3 separate regions of the Homo sapiens genome follow, and regions 1 and 3 are each linked to region 2. Evidence: fine-mapped expression QTL. A gene starts in region 2. Each other region holds a variant in brackets. All regions are shown on one strand. Distances are from middle to middle.

Region 1 (8,170 bases), 42 kb before region 2:
CCTCATCTCTTCGAATCTCTCGCATGAAGGTGGCTCGAAGCCGGCCTTGCCTCGCCCGCTCTGCCTTTTGCACTAGAATTATGGCCTCAGTCCGGTGCATTCCTGTAAAGCTCTGGCCAGAGCAGGGGCAAAAGAGCAGGAGCACATGAGGGAGAGCTTGCATCCAGGGTGGGCCGCTGGGAGACCAGCCATCAAAGGATGCACCAGGACACCATCCTCCCAGAGTATCTGGGAGGCCAAGTCTTGTCTTGGCGTTGGAGGGTTACCATCAGCAGAAGAACAGCCTTGAAGGAGGCCAGGGATTACCTAAAGGGCACTCTGGTAGAGAGCAGGGAGGGGCCTCTCTGCATTCTGGAGTCTTTCAGGAGATGGGGTATGGAAGAGTCTGGGAGGGTGTCACCCCCGTTTACCTTCTGGGAGGACACTGGCTCCAGTCTGGACAGGATCTCGGCCAGTATCAGCCCTCGCTCCCGCACAGTGGTGGACTGCTCCAGCAGGAAGTATTTGGGGATTGGAACCTCCAGGTCAGCCTTTGGAGCAATGTTGGGGGAGGAGGGTCAGGAATCAAAAGTCTGAGCCATCTGGCCGATCCGTTACCATTTTTAGGGGCTTACACACCCCCAGCACTGTTTTCCTCCATTTTAGAGTCCTGACTAAACTTAAAGGGTAATGGGGCAGATACCCCCAAGAGCCACTCCTCTCTTCCTCTGCCCCCATCCTCTGGCTGGAGTTGAATTCTGGAGGCTCATGGTAGGTGGCAGTGGTCTCAGACCTGGTTGTGCATCACAATCAACTGGGAAGCTCTTAAATGCAGATTCCTAGGTCCTCCTCAGACTACTACATCAGAATGACAGGACCTGGGGAATCTTCCCTGCGCCCCCACCCCCGACCAAGTGCACTGCTGCAGCTGGTTGGGGAAACTTTGAGATAGTCTTGGATATGAAGCAGTTACTGAACCCTGAGCCGGACTGGAGGCGCCGCAGAAGCTCTGTGCTCTAGAACAGCCTTCTAGAACTTGCCCGTGCACACAGATCACTGGAGGGTCTTGATAAAAATGCAGGTGCAGATTTAGTGAGTTAGGGATTCAGAGTTTCTCATTTGTGATGTCAATGCTGCTGGTCCAGGGACCACACTTTGAGGAGGCTCTAAAGGACTCTCCTCACCAATTCCCTGCGGTTCGTGGGTCTTCCCAGTCATGCAGGGGACCTCACCCTGACTCCATCCAACCTCTAAGTACCTCCATGCACACCCCCCACCGCCAAGGTTCCTGAAGCCCTTCCTACAAGGCCAAACCCCATCCTCTGATCTTCTCTGCCCTCCTTCCTTTCCTAGCAGTTGTCCCAACACCAGGGATATCCGTGGGGTGGCGGGTAGGCAGGGGTGGTCGGCCCCATCCCTACCCCACCCGACCCCAAGCTGGCCAGGGCGTGGCTCTGTGTCCCAGGTGGTCAAGGCCGGTCCCACCCCACCTCTCCCCTCCCGCTAGCTGGCTGGGGGCGTGGCTTCGCGGCTGCGCACACGTACTGGGGTGAGCTTGAAATCCTGCAGCACGCGGTCCAGGCAGTGGTTCTCACACAGGTCGGCGCGCACCAGCTCGTCCTTGAGCTCCAGCACGCGGCCCGCCACGCCGTCCAGCAGGCGTCGCAGCAGCCGCCGCTTCTGCGGCTGCACCATCTGGTCATAGACGGTGTCGAAGCGGCGCAGCAGCCCCAGGTAGTGCAGGTAGAGCGATGCGAGCCTGTACTGGAAGGACTGCCGCTCCCGGTCGGGCGCAGGTTCGAGCAGAAGCTGCTCTTGGTCCAGCAGCTCCTGCAGGGTCGCGTGGGAGGACTCCCAGAGGCGCTGGTAAGCTCTGGGGAGAGGGTGGCGGGCGCCGCGTGCTCTGAGCCACGGAGGAGTGGGGAGACGGAGCAGCCTGGCCTTTTGAGGAGTGTGGGCTCGGGGTACCAGAAGGTGTGATGTCACTCATGGCTCCTAAATGGACTTCAATGAGGTAAGGAGCCCGCAGGGCAATGAGTGGACACCGACCTGGTCTTAGGGAGAGTGTGGGATTGGGCTCCGCTGTAGGATTAGCAGAGAGAATGGGCATGACCTTTGGGGGTTTGGGGGAAAGCCAGCCCAGGCTTGGGGCTCTGGTAAGGAAGGGGTCTTTGGGAGTCAGGGGCAGTGGGGCCCTCCAGGTGTGGGGCAGCCCACGGATGCTGCAGTGATCTGGGCTGGTGGATGGGAAGTGGGGGTGAGGGATGAATGTGGAGGAGGGACCCTTCCCCAAGCAGAGCCCTGGTTCTGGAATTAACCATCGGAGGGAAGTTTCCACAGTGAAAGCTGCCAGGGCAGCAGCAGCAGCTGGGGTGGCCCAGTGCCCAAACCGCCACTCTGCCCCTGCCTCTCAGGACTAAGGAGATGCTCTGCCCTTTGCTGTCTCTGCCCTGGGAGCCCCACTCCAGCCCCTCACTCACCCCTCAGACATTGTGTCCACTCCTCCACGCTGCCCCTTGTTTGCTGGTGGTGGAATTCACAGAACCTCTGTGGCTCCCTGACTTCCAGGGCCACAGGGCAGAACAGCCTGTTTTTAAGAGTTCTGACCCATTGTACCAGTGTTCTAGGGCTGAGGCGAGGGGGCTGGTGGGTGCAGAATCGGGGACATTTATCTCGGAGGACGTCCTGGGAGCAGCGCGCTGAAGGGACTGTGGGTGGGTGGCTGCAGGCTCCCGCAGAGCAAGCTTTGGAAGCTTAGGGCAGAACATGTTGTCCAACTTTGGCCATTTTTCTTGTAAGGAACAAGTAAAATAAGTTTCTATTTGAAGTCCCCTGAAAGCTTTGGCGCTCTGGATACATCTGTCCTAAAGACATTACCCCCTAACAAGGCATCACCGCAGCTTCTCACTCTCAGCGGCCTCTGTTCCTTCTCTCAGCCCCCGCCTCCTGAGCCCCACAGCCCTCCTTCACTCTCTGGATGACAGCACGGGGAAGCCCATGTGGTGGAGGGGAAAGGCACTGATTTGGAGTCAGAAGGCCCTGAAGTCCCAGTTGCCCCCTTGGGTGAAAGTGAGCATAACCATGCTTTCCTCCCTGGGGCCTGCCAAGAGTTCACACCATTCCCATGAGCCAGACCCGTGTGAAGCATCA[T/C]GCTAGAAAGTATAGTGGATGCTGTTCTGCATGCTTGGGGCTTACTTGGTCACCTGTGGGTACCACCTCCCGTCACTGCTACAAGTTCAGGAGATAATTTTTCCAAAAAGACAAAATATTATACCACTAGCAGCCTGAGGCTGGTCAGCTGGGGTGAGCTTTTTGGCTCAGTGTCACGTCGAGGCTTATGAATAAGTAAATCTAAGAGGAACAGGGCCAGGGAAACGGACAGAAGGGAGATAGCGGCAAGGAGGAGCAAAGAGGAGGAACTCGAAGGTGCCTATGAGCTACCTGAGGGTCTCATTAAAATGCAGATTCCAGGCTGGGCGCAGTGGCTCATGCCTGTAATCGCAGCACTTTGGGAGGCCAGGGCAGGCGGATCTCCTGAGGTTGGGAGTTCAAGACCAGCCTGGCCAACATGGTGAAACCCCATCTCTACTAAAAATATAAAAATTAGCCAGGCCTGGTGGCACATGCCTGTAATCCCAGCTACTCGGGAGGCTGAGGCAGGACAACCGCTTGAACCTAGGATGGGGAGAGGTTGCAGTGAGCAGAGATGGCACCACTGCACTCCAGCCTGGACAACAAAGCGAAACTCTGTCTCAAAGATAGATAGATAGATAGATAGATAGATAGATAAACAGATTCTGCTCCAGATCTGAGGGGGGACCCAAGAGCCTGCCTTTCTAACAAGCTCCCAGGTGCTTTGGCTCCTGCTGGCCCGGGTCATGCCTGGTAGGGCAAGGTGTGAACACAGGGCAGAGTGGGCAGGAGTGAGACTTTGGGGCCAGATCTCCTGGGCCTGCCTCTTGCTAACTGTGAATGTAAACGTGGATCATTAGTCCTCAGCTCACAGAACCTCAAGGTGAGGCTCGAGGTATGAGAAAATACACGTGACCTAGGTAGCTGCCGCTGAACGTCAGCTATTACTACAAGGCGATGCCTTTTCAATATGTGGAGATGAAGGAGACCACAAGCCAGGTCTGTCCAATTACAAACGGCACAAAGGATTGGAGGTTTGTCTAAATCCCACCCCTTCATCTTGTCCAAGCTTGGAAGAGGATTTATGGGTCATGTGCCCACAAGATAAGCAGAGGCTGCATGAGACAGGAAAAGCAAGTGGTTAAGTGGTGAGCAGTAAATCTAGGTAAGGACATAGGCGTGGCCGTGGTGCTTCTTGCAGTTTTTCTGTGGGTTTCAAATTTTTCCAAATAAAATTGGTGATGTTAGGAGTTTCAAAAACATCCCCACTGATTTGTTCCGAAATAAAGGGGAAACTGAAAAATCATACTGATCTCAGCAGGTTATTTAGAAGCCGATCTGGGCCTTCAGTTTTTATATCTTGAATAGATCTGTGTGGCCCCTTCACACAACAGTGCCTGTCGTACAGGATGCAATGACAGTTGGTGGGAAATGACATCGCGAAGACACAGCCTGAAAGAGGACCATACAGGAGGAATTTCAGGCCCCAAGAGGGAATCAGCTGGCGGTAAATCCAGATGCTAGTCCAGTCCCAGGTCCTATTTCAGCTCACTACCAAATAGAACATTCGCATGTTTACAAAGCTATCACACGTTGCTCACGGGATACACCTAGAAAGCAGTTTCTAAGACATCTGAAGAAGTGCTGCTCCACCTGTGGTAGCCTCGAAGTGAGGACACCCTGGCTCCAGACCACACCCTGGCCTCACACACCCTTCTTTCAAATCACCACAGGGCACAGAAACAGTTCACCCTTTATTTTTGTCAGGCCCTGGGTCACTTGGAGCTGGTGTACTTGGTGACAGCCTTGGTGCCCTCAGACACAGCGTGCTTGGCCAGCTCCCCAGGCAGCAGCAGACGCACAGCCGTCTGGACTTCTCGGGATGTCAGGGTGGTCCGGCCCGAGTACTGGGCCAGCCGGGCAGCCTCACACGCCAGCTGCTCAAACACGTCGTTTACAAACGAGTTCATGATGCTCATGGCCTTGGCAGAGATGCCAATGTCAGGGTGCACCTGGAGAGAGGGCAGCACCACTCGGTTAATGGAAGGGGCCAGGGGAGGGGGGGTCCTGCCTACACTGCAAGCCTCAGCCCTGAGCTGGGGGCTCTAGGAAGCCAGAGGCAGAAGGCAAGGAGGCTCCTCACCAGCCCCTTCCCAGAGGCCAACAGTCATGGAAATAGGGATTTGTGTTTTCTTTGTACTGCTATGGTATATCTAAGTTTTTTAAAAGAAGTTTTCAACTGCAGGAGGTAACATGATTAAGCTCCTTGTATGAGCACACACAAGCATCTGTATTTAACAAATGGGACCAGTTACACATGCATCTTGCTGGTTTCACTGATGCATTTGCATAGTGTTCCACGGTATGGATGTATCATACTTCCTAACACCATTCCTCTCTTCACGAATATTCAGGATTTGGGTTTGGGGTGTTTTTTGTTGTTTTTGCTATTAGATGGTGCTATGGTAAATGCCCATCTTTGAATCTTGTGCGAGCATAGGGAAGGTTATTTCCAGAGGCGGGACTGTAGTGTCAAAACGTTTGTGCATATAACTTGGTGGAGCACATAACCAGTGAGCCTGTCCATGTGACACAGTCGCAGCCCCGGACCAGGGGAGGAGTCCTGTTCTGCAGCTGTACTGTGAATCCCTACGACCTCAAATACGGCCCTTTCCTCTGGGCCTCAGTTTCCTCTTCTGTCACACAAGCTTTTGAACTAAGTGATCTCTACTAAAGCAAATGGGAACTGATGGCAGTTCTAAAATGTGAGTAGGTAGACCTGGTCAGATGTGAAGTGGGAGAGAAGTGACTGTCCCACAACCTACATGGAGTCAGAGATGAAAACAGCACTAGAACCAGGAGGCTCTGTCCCACCCGCCCTCCCTGCCACCTCTGGTCTCCACTGCCAGCAGCAAATCTGCACCTGGCACAAGGCTAGTTCTGCCCAAACCCCCTCTGCTGTCAGCACACCCCGTTCTCCTTAGAGCTCTCACCCAGATCAGGAGGTTGAGGGGTTGGCCCTCAGCAGCACTCTCCTCTGTGAGTACAGGCCTTGTCCCACCCATCAGTTGCAATTTTTGCCCCTCAAAGTCGGGCTAAGACACAAGGCTCAGCGATACCCACTCCTACCCCACCTTCTTCAGGGCACCAGAGTCTGTCCTCTGGTGCATCTCTTCAGCCAACCCATATCAGTGCTGGACCCACCCACCCCCAACCCCACAAGAGCATTCCCAGGCACCCAGGTTGTCAATTCACTAAACCGCTAATGGGATTTGGACTGGAGACAGGCATTACCTCTGGGGCCTGCTCTAACAGAGGGGTAAGAGTTTCAAGCAGGTTGGAGACCCAGGGCGGGCAACACATGGCTACCCCCGCCTCCTCCTGGCCTTGGCCCTGCTGAGCAGCAGCTTTGGATCCTCCAGACAAATTGATTGTCAGTGTTCCAAGTCCTGGGAGTAGCTGCTTTTCGTGCATGAATATAGGGCACCTGCAGCCCCAGTGTGTTGGGGAGACGGACACACAGGAAGGATGCTAGGGGCTTGCCCAGAGCCAGGGGAACTGGGACACTGCCACTGTCAGGCCATGTGATGCAGGAACCCCATGGAGCCTTTAGGGGCCTCAAGCTGTTTGTCTATAAGGTGGACAAACCCTAAGCCCCTCAAAGAACTGAGTGCCACTTGTCCAGAAGACCTTCCCCAAGACTCCAGTTCACCCTGATCACTCCTCTTCTCGGTCACCAACACACTTTGTATCATAATGTGTTTGGCACCTGATCACCTTCAGCCTGGCATAGAAAGTGTGGTCCTCTTGTCCTTTAATTATGTCCCACCTAATCACGTTATCTCATCATCGTTCCCGTAAACTTCTGGAGGGTGGCAGGGAGCACGCTTTGTCTCCTATCACCGGTGCCCAAGATCCTGAGAGAGGTGGAGACCTCAAAAACCAGGTCCCGCCACCTCAAGAGGGGCCAGGCCTGCCTGAGCCACTTGCCCCAGTGCCAACACTAACCTCAAGGTCCCCACTTCCAGCCAGTGCCCTTTCAAGGCGCTTTGTGAGGGCATCCCTCACACACATCCTTGCTATGCACTCACCTGCTTCAGCACCTTGTAGATATACATGGAGTAGGACTCCTTGCGCCGACAGCGCTTTTTGGACTTTTTGTTCCCAGAACTGCGACCCCCACGGCCCCCGGGCTGCTGCCGCTGTCCATACTCAGCGCTCATCCTCCTGCTTCTCGAATAGCCCTCACCCACCCCCTTGGAGCTACTTTTTATCAAGTCAGCTGCCCCACCAGGTGTGGCTGGGGACATGCACCTGGGAGGGGGGGGGGGGGCAGGTGGGAGGTAAGGGGCGTGACTCAATCCCAATCCTGAACATGCTCTGGGCTAACCTTGAAAAGAGACTAATTGTTCCTTCCTCTCCCACAAGTAATCCCTCTGAATTAAGAAACCCTTCACCGGGTCCCCTCCCCCACCCAACCATCTCCCAGTGTATTTACGCACTTCTTAAAAGTTCAGGCAACTCCAGCCCACCAGCCTGTAATCACGGAGCACACAGGTGCCAGCACAGCTCAGAGTGCTGCAGACTCCAGAAGGAATGCAAGCTCCCTCCCCCACTGCGCCCCAGTGGAGGTGAAGAGACAAGACTGGTTCACATCAAACCACCAGAGAAGGGTGAAGGGGCTAAAAGTGGTGGTACCCATGGTGAGGAGGGCTCGAGTAGCTAGAGGCCGCTTCTTGGTACAAATGGGTATATGAAGGGTATCCTTCATATACCCATTGTAGGATGTATCCTTGTAGGATGTATCCTTTAATTGGGAAGAATGAGAGAAAGAAACGGTGTGAAAGGTAGAGTGGAATCAGTGTGAGCGGAGTATAATGAGGCTTGGACTGAAGGCAGATGAGCAAAACGCCTGAGCCTGGACTAGATGCAGATAGCAGAAGCTCCCCAGGTGGTGAAGAGGCTGACAGGGAGGAAGACCACTGGAGGAGGTGAGAAGCAGAAAAGCAATAGGTGCTCACCAGAAAAGCAGACGTGGCGGTCTTGGGAGTTAGCAGTA
Region 2 (8,170 bases):
GTCCCATTGAGAAAATCTGGAGTGGCTTTGAAACAGCCCGGGGGCCGGCAGGAAGGCTCAGCGGAGAACCACACTTTGGGGAACACAGTCCTACACCTCTGCCCTCAGTCCCACTGGAAGCCCCGCCCCCACCCCAAAGACTGAAGCATCACCCAGAACCTGATGGGTGGAGAGAAGGACTGAGCAGGTGACAAGGAGAAGGGTGAGGGGAGCGTGCAGGGAAGCGGTACCGGCTGCCGACGCCGCAGCCTGTCTCTACCGTGGGCACACAAAAGAATCAGGCCGGTGCCCCCTAAGCCTACCTCCCCAGAGGGCATTCGACCCGGGAAGCCTCGCTCCCTGCTAATCATTCTTCCTCGCCCCTTCCAATCCCCGCTACTCGCTTACCTGGTCCCTGCGGGTCCCCCAGGGCCCGCCCCTGCACGCCCCCTCCTCGCCGGGCCTCCCACTCACCTGCGGCTCCGCGCGGGGGCGGTGGGCACCGGCTGGCCCTGGCTCTGTGCCTGGCTCTGCCCGGGCGGGGGCGCTGCTCGCTTGCGGGCGGGCTCCATGCCCGCGGGGGCCAGGCCGGGTCGCACGGCGGGGCTGCCCATGTACGGGGAGCCCGGGGGGCCCATGGGCGCCCCCTGGTGGGGCATCCGGGCTCCAGACGGCATCCCGGGGCGCTGGGGGTGGGCGGGGGTGAAGCAGAAACGGGCGCCCGTGGGTCAGACCAGGGCCCCCCGCTCCAGGCGCGGTGAGCCGGCGTCTCCCCTCCCCCACCAGACCCTCGGCTGGTGACCCTGAGCGTTGAGCGATGGGTGGGAGCGATGGGTAGGAGGGGCAGGGGCGCCGGAATCTGCGCGGCTCTGGCGGAGGGGCTTGGCGTCTGGCTGCAGGAAGCTAACTGAAGCCAGGCACCGCACAGGGCATTGCGAGCCTCGGGGCTGCGGAAGGTACCGCAAAAATGAATATTAATGGCGCCTTTCAACCTTTCAAAGATGTTCACATCCACATGCTCCTCTGCAAGACAGCCTGAGCAGGTCCTTTCATCCCCACTTGACGGATGGGGCCACTGTGGCTCAAGGAGAAAAATGACCTCGCCAAGGTCACACAGCTCATCCTGGCCCAGGCAGCCCCTGAAGGGCTGCCTCCTGGGGGCCCAGGGCTTTGCTCTCTGCGGCTTGGTTGAGGTCCGGTACCCGGCTCCCTGCTCCGACTTCTGCTCCTCCTCCTGCTCCTCCTTCTCAGGCTCCACTTCTTGGGCGGTTCTGCCTGGTACTCACTAGCTCATCTCAGCCACTCTGCTCCCTGTGTCCCTGCTTTTGACCCTTGGGTCCCAAACCCCACTCCCCTCGGCTGACTCCAAGTCCCCACATCCAGGGTCTTCGCTGACCAAGCTGCCCCCATAATTTGCTCCCAGGGTGAGGGCTGGAGGCAGGGCAGGCAAGGGCAGCCTGCTGGGGCGCCCCAGACACAGCCAGGATTCTCTGATTGGGAGGAGGGGAACTGCGTTAGAGGTGGGCTGCCCAGGGGGGCCTGGGGTGGGTCAGGGCAGTGACACTTGCACTCACATTTCCCTTCCTGTCTGCCCAGGTCAGCAGCCACCTCCTCCTCTTCCCATCCCCACCCCAGTGAGGTCAGCAGTCAGGGTTCATGGGGGCTGTGGAGACTGAGAGGAGGCGGCTCCTCCTCCCTTGCCACTACCCCTGGGTGGTCAGATGGGGTGTAAATGAGATGCAAATGCATCGAGCGAAGTGTTCCAAACCCCACTTGTCCAGACTCCAGAAGGGAGATGGGGAGGGCCAGAGAGAGTTTCAGGGGCTGTGAAACAGAAAGAGCGGGGTGGGATGGGGACTGGGACCACGAAAGCAGGAAGAAGATCAGAGGGCAGGGGATGCAGACCCTGGCACTGTTAACATGGACACACCACCCACCTCACCCCCAGGCATGAGGAGGGGCCCCCTTGGGCTTGCTGTTTTCCTTCCAACTGCTACCTCTCCCTCCTGGTCCTCCAGGCTCTGTGTCTAACCCTAATGTCCTCCCACCCTCGGTCAGCAGCTGTCTCTGCCTATCTCTCCTGCAGTGAAACCTGCCTGTCCATGTGTCTGCTTCCCTCACCCCACCTGACCCTGTCACTCAGGCCTCCAGGGTAGCAGCCCAGAATGGAGCCCAGGCCTGGCCACCAGCTAGGTGGGGCACTGGGGCTCACAGCCACTCAAGAACTGAAGCTGTAAGTTGACCAGATTAAAAAAACAGTCCACGTGTACAGCCTCTCCCCACTAGATGGGCCTTTTTAAAGGGGCTCCCACCAGCAGCCAGGTTAGGACTGGTAACTCAGCTAGCTGACATGGACACCTTGGGAAGTTACCCCCAGGGGTCCCTGGGGCTGGAGGACAGGCCACTCCAGGGAGTCCCCCTCTTCCTGTCAGCTGCTCTCCCCAGTTATCAAGGCCAGGGATACTGGCCCATCTGCTGAAGAGGCCCTGAGAGGGAGGCTTTCAGAGCCCCCAGAGAGCTGTGCCCGCCACCAGCCCCATCCCCATGAAAGGCCAAAATCCTAGGGACTCTGGCCTTACTGAGAGGGTGTCTTCCTTGGGGTCACAACCAAATTTGGCCATAGTAAACCCGACAGCTTCCTCTACACAGGGCCTCCACTCCCTCACCCATCCCAAGAGTCGCAGCCCCTGCTTCTCCCATTCCCCACCCCTCCATACCCCTCCCAGCCGGGCCCTACTGACTCAGCTCCAGCCTCCCGGGCTCCCACGTGCCTTCACAGCCTGCCTGTGGCAGGACAGTGCTCCCCTGTCCCTTCGGTCTCTAGGCCTCATGTCCCCAACTCCAGCCCCTTCCTTCACATGTTCGAGGAGTTAAGGACATCAGCTTCTGGTGGCTGAGTCCGCCAAGGAGACCCTCAGAGCCCCTAACTTGGGCTAAGTCCCTAGAGCGGTCCTCTCCCCCACCCTAAGGCAGAAGCTCCAGAGCCCTCCCGCTGGGATGCAGAGGTGGCTCAGCCTGCGAGCTTCCCGCTACAGTGCCTCCAGGGTCACCTGCTCCTTGCTCCGGAGACACAAGCAGTGACACTGTCCCAACGGATGAACAGACAGCCCAGCCCAGCCTCTGCCATGTCCCCATCCCCCACCCCCACCCCCAGGGCAGGGGCAACACCTGGGCCCACAAGGAAAAGAACGAAAGTCAACCTGTCGGCTACAGCGAGGACCCCCTACTTGGGGGGTAGAGTCCCCAAGTCCCACCCCCGCCCCTGACAAGAGCCATGCAAACGCCTCCCTTCCCCGCCTCGCGTCAGACCCGGCCGGCCGCCTGGCGACGTGTTCGGGTGCCAGGGCGCCAGCACAGTCCCGCGGCCGGGCCGTGGGCCATGACGCCCCCCACTAGAGGGGTGGGAGAGCGGGAGCGCCCTCCCGGCCCCTCCCGATCAGCCCTCCATTCAGCCCGAGCCAGCTCGCTTGCCCTCCCCCGCTAACTTTCCCCCACTCACCACCCCATGGACCAGAAACTCAAAAAGTTTGCTTTTCGTGGCTTTGCGCGCCCCTCCGGCAACTTCGTCCGCGGCCATCGGGGTGGGCTCAGCGGCTCCTCTCACTCTCTCTCTCTCTTCCTCTTTCTTTCCCTTTTCTGCCTTTTTTTTTCCTCCAACTCTCCCCTCTGAGTCCTGCTGGGCTCTCTCACACTTCTACTCGAGCGGAGTGGGGAGGGGGCCCCTTCAGGGCTGCCCTGACGGCCCACGGCCCACGCCGCCGCCGCCCGCCCGCCGCCGCCGCCGCCGCCGCGGCTGCCGCATTCCTGCACTGATAAGACAGAAATAGTCCGGCGGCCCGGGGTCTGCCTGTTGACTCGGCGGGGACGGGGCCGCCTGCCTTTCCAAGCCCGCTGTCCAAACAGCGCAGATAAGCGGCGAGGCGCGCCGACCAGCCCGGCCGCGGGCGCTGGGCAGCAGTGCTGCAGCCCGAAGCCGCCGAGGCCCGCGGGAGGCGGCGCGGGGAGGGGACGCCAGGGGAGGCGGCGGGGGGTCGCCGGCCACCGGCTCTCGCCACAAATAGTTTCTCCGTCAGGGAATTCGCCGGCCGCGCCAGGCAGGGAACAGTCAGTTCCAACTTTTCCCCCAGCGGCTCCTGCTGCATTTCTGAGGCCCTTTCCCCAGAGACCTGGCAGGCCGAGCAGGGAAACATTCGCTGGCAGGAACCGGGGGAGCCCGGCCCGCGAGGCCTCGCGCCTGCCCGGGGCCGGCGGCGGTGGGTGTGCCCGGGCGGCGGCGTGGCCCTGCGTCCACTGCTGTGTGTGCCCTTGTCTCACACGCCGTGTGTGTCCGCGCCCTTTTGTGGCGTGGCAGCTTATGTGCGTGCAGACAGACGCCCTGTATGTGTGCCTCCCTCCACGACAGCCTCCGTGCGCGCGCGCCTGCGTGTGTGGCAGGACATGGCCTGTGCCTTTCAGCTCTGTGAGAGGCTATTTCTGGGTATGTGAGTCTTTGTTTGCCGCTCTGTGAGAAAGTGAGGGCAATAGGGGAAGTATTTCAGAAAGAGGGACAGGGATTGTGCTCATGAGAACAGGAAGAGAATGAATGTGGGGAATGGCGCAGCGCCAGGGGGGTGCTCGGGTGGGTGCGTGGAGAGAACGAGGCAAGCTGGGCTTGGTTTCCTTGGGGTGGGGGTGGAGTGGGGTTAGGGGACCCAGAGGAGTTGGGGCAGCTGGGCTGGGTATAGTGGGTATATTGGGCCGGCCTCAAGACCCCAAAGAGAGGGGTCTTGAGGCTGGGGTGTGGCGTGGGGTGGCAAGGGAGCCCCAGAAGGGGCGTGTGGAAGGAGTTGGCAGTCCCTGGAGTGGAGGAGGGACCGGAAGGAGGAGGGGCAAATCCTGACATACCCAGGCAGGGAGTCCTGGGCCTACCCAGGTCCCCAAAGGCCACGCCCCTTTTTTCTCCTTCTTGGGGAGGAGCCGTGGGCTTTGGAACAAGGCCCTTGGGTCAAGTTTGGGGGTCTGCTGGGGCCTCACTGTGAGAATCCAGGTGAGGGCAGGACCATAGCCTAGTGCCTAGGGGAGTTTGTTGAAACACTTACTTGAAGTTGGGCCCTGAAGACTGAAGGGTACTGACCCTAAACCCTTCAGAATGCCTTTGCCCAGGGGGTCCTTTCTGCCTGCAGCCTGATTTCTGCTGGCCCTGGTTGTGCTCTTGGCTGTCACTGTTCATTTAGGTGCCCACTGTCAATCTGAAATGTCAGGGAGGACATCTGGTCCAGGTTGCTCCTCCACCACCCCTAGCTTGAAAGGGGACCTAGAGATCCCCTTGCTACCAAATCTCTCCCAGGGCTTTAGCCTAGACTACCCCCCACACACCCCCACACACAGAGCCTGGGCCCTGACACGGTGGGGATGGGTGGGTGGCCTGCCTCTGTCTGCCATAGGTCATGCTGCTGGGAACCTGGGGAAGTGACTTGCCCAGTCTGCCTGCTAACCTCCAGAATCCCCGCTCACTCCCATTTCTTAGCCCCTGCCCCCGATTCTTTTACCTGGAATGCCCTTTGCCTGCCCTCTGCCTTCCCTCTGCTTGTCCAAATCACACCTATTCTTTAAAGCCCAGCCCAGGCCCCACTTCCTCCAGGAAGCCTTCCTTCGTCCTACTTGTATGCAAAGATTTTTCTCTTCTCCAAATGCTCATTGCCATCTACCCAGCACCATGAATTGGCATTGGACTGGCCTGACGTGCACTGTGCTTCAAGGACATTAGCTTTGCTTTCCCAGAGAGGCTAAGGTCCCCATAAGGTCAGAGACTGATCTTTAACTCCCACTCTTCCTCCATGCCTGGGCACAGGAACTCAACAGTACCCCAGATACCTGATGCTTGCAAAGCTTAATGAGCCAATGCATGGAGCTGGTACTCTGCCATTTACCTGATGGTGTGAGTTACCATGGGCACCCCCACCCACCATGGGTGCGTCTAGCAGGGGCATGGGAAACCACAGGCCTTGGAGGTTCTGGGGGTTGGAGATAGACACCCCTAGGCTTTGTTAAAGCTCAGTGTTCTCAACTATTGGAGAGACCTTTTGGGAAAAGAAGACAGCAGAGGAGATGCTGGGCACTCCAGTTTGGGTAGCTGGGAAGTTTGAGGCAGGGCCTGGGAGATCCCGGGCTTGGTCTTGGTGGTGGAAGAGGTTGCGGGAGGTAGTTAGACGAGGGGCTATGGTGAAGCCCCTGTGGAGGAGCTGGTGAGCTTCACCCAAGTCCATACATAAGCGCTCTCCTGAGCCACCCCTCTGGGAGACATCCTTAAGTGTACACAGACAATAGATACACCTTGCACACACACCCTCCCAACACACACACAGCAGGCACACCAATACAAGCACCAAAAGGTCGAGGAAGCCACATGGCTCTGCACACACAGGCACACCTTGAGCACCTCCACATCCCGTGGTGGGCCCCATTCACAAGGCAGGCCCAGACACATTTGCGTACTGCTTTTAGGTGGGCGACAGGAGGAGCCTTCAGACCAGAAAGCTGGGGCGGCGCCAGTGTGGGGGCCCGGGCCAGGGCTCCCTCCTCACAAAGGCCAGGATCCCCAGTGGCTTAACCCCAGAAGGGCGCTCGGTGTGCCACGCCGCCGATGGCTCCTGCGGGTGGGAAGGAGGCCCGGGAAGAGCGTGGATTCCTCCCAGCGCAATAGGGCGCCCGCCGCACTTGGGGCAGGCCGTGCGCCTGTCGGGGGCGAGGGCGGCCGCCCGGCGCCCGGCGCCGCAGTCCCCCCTGCCGTCCCCCCATCGCTCCTTCCCTCGCTGAAGCACCACCAGCACCAAATGGCAAAGCGCCGCTCCCCGCGCAGGGAGAGATGCGCCGCGGCCTGCGGGACGGGCTCGGCCGCCTCGCCCCCACCGCGCCCGAGCGAGCGGGCGGCGGCCGGGGAGCTGGGGGGGCTCGGGCCGGCCCGGCCCGCGCCGCCCCTCCCTCCGCCCGCGCCGGTCCCCGGCCTGGGCATGCGCGCCGCGGCCTCCCTCCCGGTGAAGGTCAGCCCGGGGCCCAGCTGCAGGACTCCGCGGCGGCCGGGGAGGCGGCGGAGGGAGGAGGGATGCGGGGAAGAGACTTAACTCCTTCCCTGCGGGAAGATGGCCACCTAGGCCGGGCCCCAGCCGCAGTCCCGCCCTCCTGCCCTCCGTGAAGGTCCCACCACGGGGACTCCGCTCGGGGGGCGCGGCAGGAGGAGCAGGAGAGCGGGGAACATGGAAGAAGGGGCTGGAAGGAGAGAAGAGAAGCTGGCGAGGGGATAGGGAGGAAGGGAAGGGAGGAACAAAGGAAGCGAGACTGGAGGGAGAACGGATTGCTTGGGAGAGAGCTCTTTCCTCTATTCCCTTTTCCCTACACCCCCAGCAATAAAGCTCTCCTTAGGAGAATACGATCACCCTCACTGGGGCGGCCTGAGTGAGTGTGTGTGTGTGTGTGTGTGAGAGAGAGAGAGAGCGAGAGAACGCGAGAGGAGAGGGAGAGAGAGAAAGAAAGAGAGAGGGAGAAAGTGAGACCACTTGGCGCTGTGAGGACCACAAAGCCTTGGTTTCGGTGTTCTGGCCATCTCTAAACCAGGCCCCACTTTCCGCCATCCAGCCTACCTGCCCGGGCTAAGCACCAGCCTCGGGGGACCTCTGGCTAGTCCTTGGGGTCACGCCCAGCTCCAGAGAGGGAGGAGGGGAGACTACCTCAACCCCCGCCTCTGGTGACGGTCAGCAGAGGGGACGCTCCGAAGCCAGGCCAGGGGCATCAGGCACCTTCCTCCTCCTCCTCCTGGCTGCCCCCATGCTGCTTCCAGGCCAGGGCAGCTGTGCGCTTCCCTGTTTGTGTTGGGATGTTTCTGTACCCCCGACACTCTCTGCTGCTATCAAGGGGGCTGTCTCTCTGTGTGACTTTGTCTTTCTGTGTCACTTTTGCAAACATACACGAAAGAGACAAATGCAATATATAGAAGCAAAAAACAAAGAAAAACTAGGACACCAAAATAATGGTGCGACCTTGGGCAAGTCGCTGTACCTCCCTGTCCCTCAGTGTCCTCAGAAGTGAAAGGAGAGGCTTAAGTCAGAGCATTCCTAGAGCCCTTCCAGCTCTGAAATCCAAGAATTTCCTAAGACAGAGGCAGGAACCAAGGCAGACTGGGAGGAAGGAGGGGGACAGAGGGAGGGAGCAGAGCGAC
Region 3 (8,170 bases), 25 kb after region 2:
GATGAGACATGTCACTCAGAAAACTGAGTACCCCTTCCCCATCTGCCTGGCTGGAAAGGGAGAGCTCACCTTCTAGCACAGGCACAGGTGGCTCCAAGTGTGGGCCATGGCCTTGGGGGATCTTCAGCGCTCCCCAGGGGGCACGAAGGCTGGGAATATTTGAAAGAGCCAGAGCTGGATGTTCCGAGCGGAGACAGAGCCTGTGCGAAAGCTGCCTCCAAATGTTGAAAGGTGGTCAGATGGCTTGGAGGGAGAAAGGGGTTTCTCCCTGCAACTCCAAAAGGCAAACCCAAGGTCAGAGGGAGTGACATTCTCCCTCACCATAGGAATAACTGAAGAGGGAATGAGCATGGAGCACTCCTCCAACCACGGAGTTACAGGAGGGAGACGCGGGGCACAGGGCAGCTCAGGCGACAGCAGGACAAGGTTGGCAGGCAAGAAAGGCCCACTCTTGCATCGTGGTGGTGTAGAGAGGGTGAGGCTGACAGCACCAAGAGGGATCTGGGGCTCATTTTAGAATCAGCCGTAGAGCCACCCCCTCTCTGTCCACTGCCTCACACATTTGCTCATTCATTCAAGAAATACTTCTCTGTACTGTGTGGAACAAGACAGATGCAGCCATGCCTTTAAGGAGCCCTGCAACTCAGTATTAGCCTCTTTGGTAGGTGCTGCAAGACAGAAGAGAGTGGGTGGGCCTTCACGCCCAAGCCGGGTGGGAGAAAGCCTCCCTGGAAGAGGTGGAACTGACGTGGAGGCTTCAAGGATGAGTGCAGTTAGCCAGGTGAAGGGAGCTGGGAAGGGTGTCGGAGGTGCAGGGAACAGCATGTGTGAGGGCCCTGAGTGAGGGCACGAGAATGAAGCCACTAGGAAGTGGAAGGCGGAACAAATCAGATTTGTGTTTAGGAAGCCCATTCTCGTTACTGTGCTGGGCCGGGGTCTGATGCAGGGACAAGGCTGAGTATGCGGCACTCAGATGGGGGCAGAAGATCACAGTGTGTGGACCAGGGCAGTGACGTGGGAAATCAGAAGCAGATGGAATTGACACTTATCTAGGAAATAAAATCAAATAAAAGGATGTGGCAGTTGTTCCAATGGAGAGGTAAGAAAGGGGGTGGACTTGGTCACTTCAGGTCTGGACCTGAGCCTCAATATCACTGTTTAGCAATGTGGCCCATCCACCCCACTGCAGAGGGGCCCTACTCCCTTGTCTTCATGTGTTCACAAGGAAACATGTACTGTATTCCCAGGAGAGGAGATACTGGAATGACCCTGGCCCTCTCCCCACCCTTCCTCCCTGTGGGAGGAGGCTTTGTCTGATGAGGTGGTGAGGGCCTGCACCAGCCGCACAATCCCTTTCCCAGGCGGGTGGGGTGAAGGTGCTGAAGGCAAGGCTGCTTACCCTGTGGCCAGCATTCCTCTTCTAGACGAGTCTGTTTTAGGACACAGATCATCTCCTTCTGTTCCCATGCCCAGGTAAGCAAACCCAGGTTAGGGAGTAGGACCTGCCTTCTACACTTGGGCCTCAGGTTCAAGCCTCTCTTCAGCTTGAATTTCCTTGCACTTAAGTTAACTGATGCCTGTGCCTGTTTTTCCATGGGTTCAGGACCTGTGGGGAAAGACCAGGACTGGTCCCTCCTCATACCCAAACTCACCTGTGGGGCCTGTGTGCTTAAGGAGCTCTTTATTTCCTATAAGGATATTACCCCTACCTGGAGAATGTGACTCTGTACTTAATTTCCAATTTTAAATAAACCTTCCTGCTGCCTGATATTTATCAGAAACATTGTTGTAAATATCAATATAGAGAGTATTTCCTGGCCAGGCTCGATGGCTCATGCCTCCCAACACTTTGGGAGGCTGAAGTGGGAGGATTGCTTGAGCCCAGGAATTTGAGACCAGCCTAGGAAATATAGTGAGACCTCATCTCTACTAAAATAAAAACAAAACAAACAAAAGCTAGGGGGCATTGTGGCTTACGCTTGTAGTCCCAGTTACTCAGGAGGCTAAAGCAGGATCGCCTGAGCCCAGGAGTTGGAGGCTGCAGTGAGCCATGATCACACCACTGCACTCCAGCCTGAGCAACAGCGTGAGACTCTGTCTCTTACAAAAGAGAAAGAGGGTATTTCCTGAAGGTAGCAATGCATTCCTCTAGTTGCTCCAAATTTTAAGTTTGGGTTAAGCAATATTACCAGTAGGTTTATGGCTGGGGAGTATTGTGTTGGTCCTTGCCTTAGCCCTAGGAAGCAGTTGTGACATTGTTGAGAACATTGCATAACTTTGTCACATGGTATCCCCTTCATTTCCTCATACAGGAGAGACCTCCCAGTGGCTCGGGACCAGAAATCACGTGATTTGAGCAAGTTGTTTGATTTTTATCTCATGCACAGTGTAAATCATGTAACTGCTTGCTTCTCTGCTGGCATCGGGGTCTCTGGGCCTCGTGGTTTGCATTTGGTGCAGTAGCCACATCCTAGGCAACACCATGTTTTCTCTACTCTATCTCTGTCTCAGTTTCCTCACTATATGTATCTTTGCAAACTACCTGAAACCCTTTTCAGGATGAGGCGGAGCATAAGAACACCTCCCTGTGTCTTCCTCTCCCTCCCTTATGGCACAGTGTCCCTCACTCTAGGGCATTTTCCCAGAACGATCTTCAGTCTGGGAAAAAGGTTCACATGGGAGATGGTCCAAGTTTGTAAGTTGCAGTAGGAGGCCTGTGTGGGGCGCACGCTCATGAGGCACGTTCTCAAATCCCTGGAAGTAAGTGTAGAGTGCCAAGAATCGGTGTCACAGCTTGGAAAGTCAAGAAACCGAACGCGCTATCCCAAAATGTGGGCCTGGCTGAAGTGATCAGCCCTCCTCTACGGTCCTTTATGAGTCACCAAGGATTCCCACACCCCTCATTAGCAAGGAGCACAGGGGGACACAGCAATGGTCCCTACAAGATGTCCCTCAGCCAAGTACCCGTCAGAGGCAGGCGGTGGCCTCAGCTTGGCCCCTCTGGTACAGCAATTCCAGATGGTTAGGAGTCCAGCCACAGCTGAGGGAAGTCCACTCATCCCCGATGGGTGGCTCAGCCTCCTCCCAGTGACACCTCTAGCTCATTATCTCCACCACTTAATTTTCACTAATCATGAGCACTCACTTGCAGTCACACCGCCAGTTTTGGGGTGAGGACGGACGCCTAGGCACCAGCACCAGGGCCTGTCAGCATCCAAATGCCCAAGTGCCTGCCTGGCTGCCAAGAGCCTGCAACGCACACCGCCGATTGCATGTGAATGCAACTCCAAGATAAGATGCCAAACTTCCACCACCTTGTCACTCTTGGAGCTGGGGCTTCTGACTCATGGCCAGGGTCACTCTGGGGCCAGGTGTCACTAGGATGGACCTACTGCCCCAGGGCTCCAGCTCCAATCTTCACAGGCCTCCTCTGCCCTCCTTCCCCTGTGCCCATCCTGCAGTGACCCTTCAGGAAAGGTCTGGAACAGCCCAAGGCTCCCTCCGACTGCTGCTGGGGAGCCCCTTAGGGCCTAACGAAGGGCATGTCAAATATTAGGAGGACTCTCCACGTGGGGGACCACTTCAGGTGCACCCCTCCAGGAAGCTTAGCTGCCTCCCATCAGCCTGCCCCCCGTTCAACCTGGCCTCTAACCTCAGACACCCCAGAACTGTAGAGTGCTTGGTTTAATATACTAGTTCTCACCTTTTCTTTATGAATTTCAGCTAAAACACCAACCACCACAAACTGAGCAACCAGTCCCCAGTTCACCTCAGGTGCTGGGGAGGTGTTGGGGATAAGGGTGGGACGTTTGCTTGGAGGCCTTGACTTTCCTGCAGGTGGACTGGGGCTTCAGGTGTGGGGCTGGGCATGCCGCCACCAGGTGTGTTTCCTTGGTGATGGGTACCAGGTGACTGGTGCCTGCTGCTGCCCTGTGTGGCTTGGATCCTCTGGGCCAGGCCAGCTTCCCCAAAAGCCGGTGCCCTGCCCCATTTTGCCCTGGGCCTGCACCTCACTGGAGGAGGAGGGGCACTGGGGCAGTTTGAAGGGGAA[C/T]GGGGCTGTCCCTGGCCTTCAGAGCAGCCTGGCAGGAGGATGAGTTCCTCTGCCCACTTCTGAGGAAGGAGAAGCAGAGAAAGCACTTTCATTCTGCCCACAGCCCCAGGCCTCCCCGAGCCTCAGGCTCCTCTGGGCCATTTCCAATTGCACCTTTCCAGGACTTTCCTGATGTCTCCCTCCTCAGTGCTCTGAGGCCTGTGTGGTCTGTGGCCCTTTGTGCCCAATTGTCAAGGCTGCTCTCCAAGGCCGCAGGCCCTGAGGACAGGGACTGGGCTCCACATACCTTGAGGCCCTGCCAGTACCCACCCTGTTGCCAGGTGCCTCCCACCGGTGAGGCCAGCCAGCGTGATGATGGGTGGGGCTGGGCAGGCAGAGCTCAGACCAGACTTCAGTTCCGACCCCTTACCATGCCAGCTGGGGCTCTGGGGCAGGTGGCTTTTCTGCCCAGAGCCTCAGTGTGTCCTTCTGGACAAGTGGGGACTGATGCGGACAAATGCAGACCATCTTCCTCTCACTCCTTGAGGAGGAGGCTTAGGAAGGCCCTACAAGCAAGCAATGGCCCAGAGTGCATCAGAGCTAGAGGTCCGCCTGGGGCAGGGCAGGGTTGGCTCCCACTGCGGGCTGTGCAGTAGACGGCTGCCACCTCCCTCCTGCCACAAGCGGAACCCTGCCTGGGGCCCTGAGGGTTTTTAGAGGTTTCTGAGCACAAGTTGTGCCAAGGAATCAGCAGGTTCCTTCCAGCTCGCAGAGAGCATGTGGTGTGTGTGCATGTGAGCATGTGCACGTATGTGCACGCTTCTTCATGTACGCAGTGAGAGGAGATGGGGTGTTGTCTGGCTGTCTAGGTGGGGAGGAAGTAGAGCATGCCAGAGCCCAGACCATGCTCACATGAACCCAAAACTTGGTTTCAGGTAGCTTGTCCCTGGCTCAGAAAGGCTTTGAGAGGCAGGACCTAAGGACACCAGGAGGTGAGAGGACACGCAGGAAAGGGAGTGTGGGATGGAGGGAAGGACATTAATGACAGGTGTCAGCAGGGGTGGGGAGAGGGACAGAGAGGCCCTGCCATGGGCACTAAGGAGTCCAGCTGGGGGCAGAAATGCCGGGAGGGGGCCATGTGGTGGGAGCAGGAGCCGAGGGCTGGCCGACTCGCCATGGGGCCCCAGAGCTTCTGCTCCTGGGCTGGCAGGGGAGGAAGCACCTACCTGTACCACGGTGGGTGGGTGCTGAAGACCTGGAGTCATAGATGGCAGGGTCCTGCACCTGGAGAGTCATCCAGTGCCCCCTCGGTGCCTGGGCCCGGAGCCCACCGCGCCTGCAGCACCAAGGGCCATTCTGAGGATCTGAAAGGAGAGGTCAGACCCTGAGCCCCAGCGTAGATTCAAGGAGGCCTCGGGAAGCTGCGAAGAAGCCAAACTCCCCGGAGTGGAGGTCTGAGGAAGCCAGGACACTGTGCAGAAAAAAGGGCCTAGGATGGAGGCAACCAGCATGGGCCAGCTGGGGCTGGGGTGGCACAAGGCAGGGCGCAGGTGGGAGCAGTATGTGTGGGAAGCAGACAGAGACCGGCCCCAGGGTCCTGCGGGACAAAGAACTTGAAAGACAGAGCAGGGACCCCAGGCAGAGCCCAAGCCCTGACTGGAGAGGCCAGTTTTGGGGGTGTGGCAATGGTTGGAGGGAGAGAGCTGGGCATTGGAGGCAAAGGCCAGAGGGCAGGTCAGGATGGTAACTGGGATGGCCCTGGAGCCCAGGGGCATGGAGGGACTCCAGAGGTGGCAGGCAGGTAGTCAGCCTGCTCCATGACTACCAGCTGGCCTAGGCGCCTCCCTCCTGGTCCCTGCTAGTGCCTGCTCTGTCCTGTCCTGCCCTGCTTCCTTCCTTGCTGGAAGAGCAGGAAGGCCTCCAGCTCGTTGGGTCAGGACCCAACTTATGAAATGAAGTCCCTGAGCAGACGGTGGGGCATGGGAGCTAAGAAGAGAGCAGTGCTGTAGGAGCGGGGTGTGGGTGACAGAGGTGGGGCTTGGGAGTGGCTCAGGGTCTGGTTAAGCCATGTGAGCAAAAGAGGCTGCTGCCCATGGATCAATCCTGAGCAGGGTTGGGAGGAAAGGGGATGAGGAAGGAGGAGGCTGGAGACAGGGAGTGCTGGGGATGGGAGAGCTGGTGGGGTCCGGGAGACAGAGTGGGAGGGGAGGATGAGGAGAGGAAGATGCGGTAGGGGAGGGGCTACCAGTCCAGGGTCGGGGGGGAGGTGCCCTGCAAGAAGGTGGGGGACAGAGGGACAACCTGAATAGGAGAGGGGTATCCAGGGAAGACGGTGGCCAAGTGGAGACAGAGAAGGTGCCAGGCAGGGGAATGATGGGAAGGTGCTAGGTAGGGGAAGGAGGGAGAGGATGCCAGGCAGGGGAAGGAGGGAAGGTGCCAGACAGGGGGAGTAGGAAGCAGAGCATGCCAGGCAGGAGCAGGTTGAGAAAGTGCTCGGCAGGGGGGAGGTGACAGGCAATGGGAGGAGGTGGTGCCAGACAGGGGGAGGAGGGGAAGGTGCCAGGCAGGAGGGTGCCAGACGAGGGAAGGAGGGGAGATGCAGGTGGAGGGAGGATAGGAAGGTACTGGAGAGGGAAGGAGGGGAAGATGCCAGGCAGCGATGGGGAGGAGGTGGTGTCACAGAGGGGCTGAATGGGAGTCTGCCAGTCAGGGAAGAGGTGCAAGGAAGGGGTAGGAGGAAGAGGTACGAGGTTGGGGTGGGGGTGGAGGGAGGTGCCAGGCGGGGGGACGGAAAGAGTCAGGAGTGGGGGGAGATACCTGGAAAGGAGGAGGGGAGGAAGATGCCAGGAAGGGAGAAGGGGATGCCAGGTAGGGAGGAGGGGAAGTGCCAGGTGAGGAGAAGGTGCCAGGCAGGAGAAGGAGGGGGGATGCCTGGCAGTGGGAGAAGGGAAGCCAGGCAGGGGGAGGAGGGGGAAGCCAGGCAGGGGGAGAAGGGATGCCAGGCAGGGAGGAGAAGGGATGCCAGGCAGGGGGAGGAGGGGGATGCCAGGCAGGGGGGAGGAGGAGGAGGAGGATGCCAACAGAGGCGAGCAGAGACTGCCAGGCAGGGAAGGCGGGGGCGCCGGCGCAGCGCGGCCGGGAGGCGCCTTCGCCAAGGGCCGTGGGGGCCGCGCGGCGCGGGTCGCTCACCTGCTCCCCCGGGACCCCGGCCCGGAGCGCGGCCGCCCGCTCCCTGCTCGGCGCTCGGCTCGGCCCGGCGCCTGCGCCGCTGCAGCCCGGAGCGGGGGAGGCGCAGGGAGCGTCTGCAAAGAGCGAGGAGCTTAATAATGAGTTAGGGACCGGAGCAGGAAGCGTCGCCCCATCCAGCCGTCGGTGTGCTCGCCAGCTCGGAGGCCCTCGGCGGGCCCTGGCCAGACCCGTTGTGATCTTCAGCCTGTACACAGATGTGTCGTAGGCCTGTGCTTGCATCTGCACGCCCACGAGTCACACACGCAGTCAGCATCCTGTGTGGCCGCAGACATCACCTACACTAGGACCACACACGCGCATGCACGTGGGCGCGCACACACAGGCACACAAACGGTTGTCCTCACACAGATTCAGTCAGATCATCCTATGTGGCTGCAGACATTACCTAGACGAGGTCCCGGACACCCATGTGCACCCCCCACCCCCTCAAAACGCACATACCCTGGGAGGCTTTGGGTCCATCAAGCCTCAGGGCCATGTTCTCACTAATGCCAATCTCCTCCTTTTATGTACTCAATACTTAAATTTGGCAGCTTGGAGAAGCCTATTCCCAGCTTCCAGCCAGACAAGCCCAGCTCTGGCCATCTCATGGGCTCTTCCAGGGCCCCGCCTCACACGGCTGAGCTACCACAGTGCCCAGCACAGAGGGGGACCCCAGCCTACCTGCAGAGTGAAGGAGCCCTAGAGAGCTCAGGCAACGGCGGGGGAAGTGGGAGCACCTCCCTAAGCAGCCAGCGGGCAGGGAGCCTGCCAAGCATTTGGGGCCAGGTGGGCCTCGTAGGCCCCCAGTAGGAGGCAGGCAGGCAGCAGGGACCCATGGTCTGAGGCTGAGGTCAAGGTCAGGTCCTTCTCCCTCAGGTTCCCGTCTCTGCCCCTGCCGATATCCAGCCT

Evidence for each region.
Region 1: its variant is fine-mapped to the expression of SMARCD3 in whole blood (TOPMed, PIP 0.99).
Region 3: its variant is fine-mapped to the expression of SMARCD3 in whole blood (TOPMed, PIP above 0.99).

Annotation. Positions count from the first base shown.
Region 1 is chr7:151,202,985-151,211,154 of GRCh38, forward strand. It overlaps DRC11L (dynein regulatory complex subunit 11 like), which reads right to left and starts at 2,512. Exons shown (of 19, transcript NM_001304419.2): 1 at 2,460-2,512; 2 at 1,525-1,852; 3 at 411-530; 4 at 1-112. The coding sequence starts at 2,470. It overlaps ABCF2-H2BK1 (ABCF2-H2BK1 readthrough), which reads right to left. Exons shown (of 17, transcript NR_160983.1): 16 at 8,133-8,170; 17 at 4,853-5,123. H2BK1 (H2B.K variant histone 1) reads right to left here and starts at 7,504. Exons shown (of 2, transcript NM_001369125.3): 1 at 7,203-7,504; 2 at 4,853-5,123. The coding sequence starts at 7,334. The coding sequence ends at 4,887. The variant T/C (reference allele first, on the strand shown) is at 3,130.
Region 2 is chr7:151,245,007-151,253,176 of GRCh38, forward strand. It overlaps SMARCD3 (SWI/SNF related BAF chromatin remodeling complex subunit D3), which reads right to left and starts at 3,688. Exons shown (of 13, transcript NM_001003801.2): 1 at 3,479-3,688; 2 at 454-665. The coding sequence starts at 3,556. RefSeq lists enhancers at 1-206, 207-780, 781-1,355, 1,356-1,929, 7,209-8,118 and silencers at 443-742, 763-842, 1,917-2,211, 4,259-4,348.
Region 3 is chr7:151,269,858-151,278,027 of GRCh38, forward strand. It overlaps a transcript of SMARCD3 not described here. Among named protein-coding and RNA genes, the nearest start is that of SMARCD3, 25 kb to the left of the region's middle. RefSeq lists enhancers at 4,813-5,612, 7,766-8,170. The variant C/T (reference allele first, on the strand shown) is at 4,052.